Homo sapiens: one gene and its partner. The protein of the gene in region 1 interacts with the protein of each later gene in a pairwise test. Each region holds a gene or a part of one and is shown on either strand. Other genes may lie near its edges. The genes, in order: ALX1 and IPO13.

Region 1 (3,823 bases):
ACTTACCACATCAAGATACAAGAAAAAGTAAAATCTGTGGATCCTTTTCTAACATAAATACATTTCTTTTTACGTAATTTTTTTAACCTGGTTTACCTTTCTTGTTTGATGTCTTTTAACATCACATTTGCTTTATCAAATATTCCTTAGCTAAAATTCTAATTTTTATTAAATAATTAGGTTTGGTTTCAAAATCGAAGGGCCAAATGGAGAAAAAGGGAACGTTATGGCCAAATACAACAAGCGAAAAGCCATTTTGCTGCCACCTATGATATATCAGTTTTGCCAAGGACTGACAGCTACCCACAGGTATGCTAAACTACACAGAATACTGATCAAGAAAAGGATATTTGGTTTGTATATTCTTAAAATGGTTAGCATAGGCTTTATTATATGTAAGATAATAGCCAAGAATGAAAATCTAAGCTTCAGAAAACATTCTTCATGTCTGCTAAGTTTTAATTTTTCTGAATTATTTTCTTGTTGTTTTCTTACAGAGTCATTCATTTAAAAATATTTCAGGGTATTTTTTTCTTTTGAATTTTGTTGTATATTGCCACCAATGAAATAGCATCATTTAATGATACAGGTATTTTAATTATCCTACATTCTAATTACTCAGACTCTCTTCCTTTTGTTAACTTTTAAAAATACTGTAAATAGAGTGTTGCTTAGCATGCAATCTCTGTGGATATTGTTTTATGAACTATACTAAAACCTGATGTCAAATGTGGCCTATTAAGCCCTTAACTCCATTTAAAAATGTGTCTCTTTTTCTATGTTTTTTTTTTTTCAGTTTTCAAATTGCTTATTCTCTAAAGGTCCACATTTGGTCCTGTTTGACTTAAAACAGAGATAGAATTAGTATCAGACATAATTTTAAAAGTTAATCACAGATGAGTAACAGCTTCCCTTTATAATGGGTGCTCTTTTACTTCATTACAAAAAGTGTTAGAAATTCTTTTTCTTCTCATTTTTCTTTTTCAATATAAGACTATATATTTCTTTTTCATATTTTGTAATGAATGTAAATGTTTGTCTTTCTAATTTATTTTGTGTCACTTTTTCCTAATACTTAATAATGATATTCAGAACTGTATTTGATACATGATGAAAAAAAACCTACGTTATAAGCAACGAGCTATGCATTATTTTGTTATTTATTATTTAATGATATGCATTATAAGAGACCCATGTGAAAACACATATGAAACATATATGCTGGAGAAATACCTTGATAGTTCACTAACTAGATGATCTGAACCCCAAACTTGAGTATTCATTTTCTTCAACACTATGAGTACAAATTCAGTTCTTTAATGTTGTTCTTTCCTTGTGTTCCTATGCCTTTTATGATTCTTAAAAACCAGTTTTAGAAACCTCACTCCTCCAGATAAATCCCCCAAATTTATTAATATAATATTATATGTTAAATAAAAGAAGTCTTGGAGGTCACCTTGTTCAACTCCTTCCTTTAAAAAAGTTATGAAAACGGGCTCAATTGAGTTAAGGAATTGGTTTGTGATCATACAAGTGGGTTCCTGCAGGAGAGACTGTAAAGGTCGCTACGTCTAAACCTTTACCCAATGGCTTGCTAGAAGACTATTCTTATGGATACCTTTTCAATAAATGCCTCCTATCTCCTTGCCATAGGAGGAATCTTGTTTCTCTTTTAAAATTTATCTTAAAGAGGTTACCTTATGTTTTCTCCTATTTTAAAGCATGAGGCTACCTCTGGTGGTTACTTACCATCATAGGGCTAGTCAAATTTTGTTTGCCAAATATTTTTGAGTGCCTTAGTTGAGTCAGTGTGAGTTAGTTTGAGTGCCGTTAGTTTCTAAACAAAATTCTGTAAAAATCTTTCCCCTCTAGGCTGCAAGCTCCATGAGGACAGGGACTGCAGTGTCTTCATGGTTATTAACACTACAGTAGCCCTCACTGTATATCTGGGCACTGTTCTAAGCAGATTACATATATTATCTCATTTAATCCTCACAACAACCTTATGTGCTAGGTGTTACTAATTGTCTCCATTGCTCAAATGAGAAAGAGGTAAGGTGAAGTTCAGATTTGACCAGAGACAATTTGGTTCCCACTTGCCAGATTTTAACCTGACAATAGACTGTCTCTACCTGTGAATATATTTAAATGATACCAAAGGAGCATAAAGTTTGAGCTGCATTATTGTAAGTCTGCGCTTTAGTGTCAGGAGCCACAACCAGAGAAATAACAATAAAAATATAGGTGAAATGGAGAATGGTTTATATCATTTTGAACTACTTGACTGTGGTGACTTTAGACGTAATAAAGTAACAAATTATGAGCTCTTCACATGGATTTTAAACTCTTACTAAGTATATTCCACAACACTTGACTATGACTACTTTTTTGTGCATTTTATTCTTTCAGTCTTCATTTCCTTTCAAACCCCATTTCTGTCTGTTTTCAACTTTTCTGTCCCTGTACGTTGGTTGTTTTATATTTGACTCTTCTTGCTTCTTTGATAAAGCAATCAGAATAGGGCCTAGCATCAATTAAGACCTATATAAAGGGTAAAGCATTCAGAATAGTGCATATTCTGAATCTAAAACTTTATACAGCTTTAAGACATGTATAAATGCTCAATATGACTCAGTGTACTCTGAGTAACCATCTCATTTCCCTAAGATTATCTTACCATTGTGTTATTGTACCTCAAAGCTTTATATATTATTAATTAAAAGAATGAGGTAACCTAGACACCGATGGAGGAACGGACATGGTACACCAAATTATATATTTGATCATCTTTTTCACTCCAATGAAAAATTAATTTAAAAAATTTCCCCCCACAAATCATGGGAATGTTGCACTAATTATTCCTCATAATTTTGTATACATTGGCTATACCACCTGATAATTTAAGAATGGAGAACATATGTTGGAATTACTTCAACAGTGCCAATCATGAATAATAATAAAAATTAATACCATGAAGTCCATAGTACTTTCTTGTATTGGTAAATCATTTAATGTTTGGTTACCAAAATTTCCGAAATTATGTGGCTGCAACTCCCCACTGTAGATACTGGATAAAGCCGGGGGAATTTTTATTTTAACTTAAATATATACAAGATACTTTTTTAGTTTGTTTGAAAAAATAATTGGGCCAAGATCATGTCTCTCAAGAGTTAGCCTAAATGAAATGTTTTTTTTATCATGGGGCTTGAAAATAGGAACTTGTAATGGGAGAAATAGAAACAGAAGTAGAATCCAATATCTCAGTCTAATAAGACATTGGATTTGGTGACTGTTAATTACAGAAAAAATTATTAATTTCAGAAAAGTTGGAAACTAGAAAATGTTAGAGGCAGGACAGAAATAAAGAATTAGCAATTTGGCAGAAAGAAAAGCCATACATAGAAATACATGAAAAACAGAGATAGTTTAGAAAATGATCTCCTCAAGCCTGCTCAGTATGTACAAGCATAATATGTTTATTTCTATATAGTAATTAATACTTTCTAATATGTTCTAATAAATACTTTGTTTCAACTGGCCGTCTTTTTACTATAGTAGCAACAGCTGTAACAGTAAAAATAATTACTAATAATTGGGGGCATATTTAAAGCCAGACACTGTGCTTCCTTCTTGTATCTATTAACCTGTTTAATTTAAGCTCAGGTTTTCTGAGCTCAGGAGCCCAAAGATCTTTATGTAACATTATCTCTTTAATTCATCACTGAAGAGTGAAATTATTCAAATTGGATCCTAAAATATCACATCCTTTTTGGAAGGTAAAAATGCTTCTGGTTTTAAATTTATAAACATTTAAAAAGCCTAA
Region 2 (3,823 bases), on another chromosome or scaffold:
TGATATTCTATCCTTTGAGGCAGAGAAGCAGGCTGTATACCAGCAGGTGTACCGGCCAGTCTACTTCCAGCTGGTGGATGTGCTTCTGCACAAGGCCCAGTTCCCTTCTGATGAGGAATATGGATTCTGGTCCTCAGACGAGAAGGAGCAGTTCCGAATTTACAGGTGATGGTAGCAGGCCAACTCCTCTAAAATGGAGTCCAGAAATAATGAAGGCAATGAGGGAAGGGGCCCAAGTCCAGGCTTTCTGAATTTTGGTGCTCCTTTCTGTTTTCTAGGTATTGTTGCAGAGTTGTGGGGGTACTGGGGTAGGCTCCTGGGCTTGGGGGCAGGATCCAGGGTCAGGATCCAGGCAGTATAAAAGGCCTTCATCTGCTTCTCAGGGTGGACATCTCAGACACGCTCATGTATGTCTATGAGATGTTGGGGGCCGAGCTGCTCAGCAACCTCTATGACAAGCTGGGTCGTTTGCTCACCAGCTCAGAGGAGCCCTACTCCTGGCAGGTACCTCCCAAGCCTGATTCCCTCAGCCTTCCCAGACCTGTCACACCCTCCTCCTCATCCAAGCCAGTGGCACCCTCTTTCCCCAGCACACAGAGGCCCTCCTCTACGGCTTCCAATCCATCGCAGAGACCATTGACGTCAACTATTCTGATGTGGTGCCTGGGCTCATTGGCCTCATCCCACGGATCAGCATCAGCAACGTGCAGCTGGCAGACACTGTCATGTTCACCATTGGTGAGACCTGGCACACACCCATGACCATATTCCCAGAGCCACAGCACCCAACCCTGGCCACAGCCAGCATGCTGGATCCTATCCAGAATGGGAGAGCCACATGCCTACACACAATCAGTGTTGTAACAAACTGACTGTCCTGGCAGGTCTAGGGGGTCCATCTGATGGCACACTGAGCTGCAATTCAGTGAGGCTAGTTTACCGTCAGTGAAACAGCAGTACTGGGCCTCTGTTGAGTAACCCCTTCCTGCTTCTCAGCTGTAAGGCTCATGTTTGAGCATGCACATGCATATGTCCTCTGAATGGGGCAGTACTCTGTGCTGGGGCTGCAACTTGACCCTGCCAGGAACTCTGCTTGCCTCAGAGACATGGTACAAAGCCAGCCTGGCCTGCCTCAAAGATCCTCCTGTCTCCCTCCTTCCTCCAGGAGCTCTGTCTGAATGGCTGGCTGACCACCCCGTCATGATCAACAGTGTTCTGCCCTTGGTACTGCATGCCCTAGGCAATCCTGAGCTGTCTGTCTCTTCTGTGTCCACCCTCAAGAAGATCTGCCGAGAGTGCAAGTATGACCTGCCTCCCTATGCTGCCAACATTGTGGCTGTGTCCCAGGTATGCAGGGGCCCTGGATGGTGCTGGGCCTCAGAGCACACTCTGCACTGTGCTGATACTACATTCCTTCTTTCTCCCCTCAGGATGTGCTGATGAAACAGATCCACAAGGTGCGGCTCAAAAGTTTCTAGGGGTCTCCTTGGAGGTCTTGTGGGAATCACTTATCCCTGAAATCCTGTTTTTTGGCCTTCCCCTTCCTCTTATCCCTTATTCTCTGTTTTTCTTCTCCCAAGAGGCTCATTTTCCTTCCTACCCCACAACTAGATGTGGCCAGGACTGACCATCCATGTTCTGCCCCACAGACAAGCCAGTGCATGTGGCTGATGCAGGCGCTGGGCTTCCTGCTGTCAGCTCTTCAAGTGGAGGAGATCCTTAAGAACCTGCACTCGCTTATCTCACCCTATATCCAGCAACTGGAGAAGCTGGCAGAGGAGATAGTGAGTGAGCTCTGGGGGCCAGGGAGCGGTACTGAGATGCTGTGGCTGATGAGGGGTGAGGTTGGAGCTGGCCCTCAGAGCTGAGGCTCAGTGATCTGGGGACCAAACTGGGGCTGGGAGATCTGGAGCTTGGTTTGCTTCTCCCTGCAGCCCAATCCCTCCAACAAGCTGGCCATTGTTCACATCTTGGGGCTTCTCTCCAACCTCTTCACCACACTGGACATCAGTCATCATGAGGATGATCATGAAGGCCCTGAGCTTCGGAAGCTGCCAGTGCCACAGGGACCCAACCCCGTGGGTGACATTTGCCCACGGCAAAGACATTTGTCTTTGCCATCCCCCCAACCCCCACCTGTGGGAATGTCATTGTCACTCTTCAATTCTGTGGGTAATGTTGTCATTGTTCTCCCTGCCCCGTGGGCGTGATATATTTGGTCCTCTGACTCCATGAATGACCTATAATTGCCTCACTCTGTAGGCAGCAATGTCATTATCTCACTCAGCTCTGTGTGTGATGTTGTCCTTGTCCCCAGCCCAATTAGGGTGATGTCATTGAGATTCCTCAGCCCCATGAGGGACATTGACGTTATATCCTTCAACCCTTAAGTGATTTTATGGGCCCCTGTTCAACCCCTAGCTCTGTAGGGCCTTCTACTTCAACATTTACTGTCCCCTGTGGGCACTAAGGATGCTCATTACCTCCTCCGCATGTAATAGTTCTGGCCTTCAAGTTGCTCCCAGTGTAGAGGAAATTCAGGTTGCTCAAATTGTCACAAAGCAGTGTGATAAGTCCTGTGGTAAGCTTGGGCATAGGTTTTGGGGTGACCACTTACAAGCTGCTTGATCTGGGGCAAGCCTCAGCTTCCCATTAAAAACTATGAACATTGAAATGTCTGGCTTACTCAATTCATAGAACTGTGCTGGATAGTAGATGTGGTCTTAAGTGAAGGTAGTTTGCATATTGTAAAGTTCTTTACAAATATAAGGGACTGCTTTAGTCGTTGTTCCCAGAACTCCCTCCCAGATTTCTCCAGGAGAAAAGGAAGCCATAGGCATCCTGGCCTCTCTGCTTAACTCCCCAACCCAGTTTCAGTTAGCCTCTTGGCTTTAGACCACCCCTGGGCCACTGTCATCCCACAGAGCTGCTTCTTTACATGGTAGTCATCATCCTGCCTTTCCTCACCTCCCAGGACCTCAGTCTGCTCTCTGCTCCTCCATAAGCTGGGAGAGCAGCTTAAGCCTGCATCTGTGCATTCCTTGGGGCTCCCTACCTCAAGCCTATTTGGAGGAGATAGCATCTCCACTTCTTCAGAGGCTAGCCCATAGCCTTGGTTTTACAGAGCAGAGATAGGGAGAGATTTTTTTTTAAGTTTACAAAGTTTTTGTAACCTTATGAAGCACTTGTGATATCTCTGCTTTGCAGTTTGAGGCTTCCTTTGAGATGATCCCTAGAATTCAGGAAATACTCCTTTTTCATTCATGAGAGAGTTCAGCAAACCACTTCTTCCCCCAGGGGTCCCATGCCCTGGGTCCTCAATGTGTGTTCTGGGGTAATAGGTCTGAACTGCTCCCCTCCTCCCTGCCACCAAGTCCTCCTCAAGTGGGTCACAGTGATGGATAGCAGAAGCGCCTCACTTCTTCCTGTGCCTTCAGGTGGTGGTGGTGCTGCAGCAGGTCTTCCAGCTTATCCAGAAGGTGCTGAGCAAATGGTTGAATGATGCCCAGGTTGTGGAGGTGAGCCCTGACCCTTGCCCTCCGCTCCCATAGTGACTGCTCAGAGGTGTAGCAGGGTAAGATGTTACTGCCACACTTCAGCTTACAATGGTTTGGAGAAAACAAGGGAGGTGAATCCTGCCCCATAGAGATAAGGAATCTTTTGGGAAGACATTTAGAACTCCCCAATATCATGAGAAGTGCTTAACGTAAGGACTCTAATATTAGGGTCGAGTGACAGTCAGGCATCTGTTTTAGCACCAAAGACCTGCCTTTGGTCCCTTTTCAATTCAGGTTTTTGTTGCTGTTGCTGCTCCCTGAGAGGA

The links.
Region 2: the proteins of ALX1 (region 1) and IPO13 interact in a two-hybrid assay, tested with the Homo sapiens proteins (one large-scale study listed by BioGRID and IntAct).

The regions. Positions count from the first base shown.
Region 1 is NC_000012.12:85,286,673-85,290,495, forward strand, and holds part of ALX1 (ALX homeobox protein 1), read left to right. Parts: intron 1-180; coding exon 181-309; intron 310-3,823. UniProt on the Homo sapiens protein: Sequence-specific DNA-binding transcription factor that binds palindromic sequences within promoters and may activate or repress the transcription of a subset of genes.
Region 2 is NC_000001.11:43,956,812-43,960,634, forward strand, and holds part of IPO13 (importin-13), read left to right. Parts: coding exon 1-165; intron 166-383; coding exon 384-504; intron 505-590; coding exon 591-738; intron 739-1,165; coding exon 1,166-1,347; intron 1,348-1,430; coding exon 1,431-1,457; intron 1,458-1,649; coding exon 1,650-1,784; intron 1,785-1,934; coding exon 1,935-2,078; intron 2,079-3,437; coding exon 3,438-3,518; intron 3,519-3,823. UniProt on the Homo sapiens protein: Functions in nuclear protein import as nuclear transport receptor. Serves as receptor for nuclear localization signals (NLS) in cargo substrates.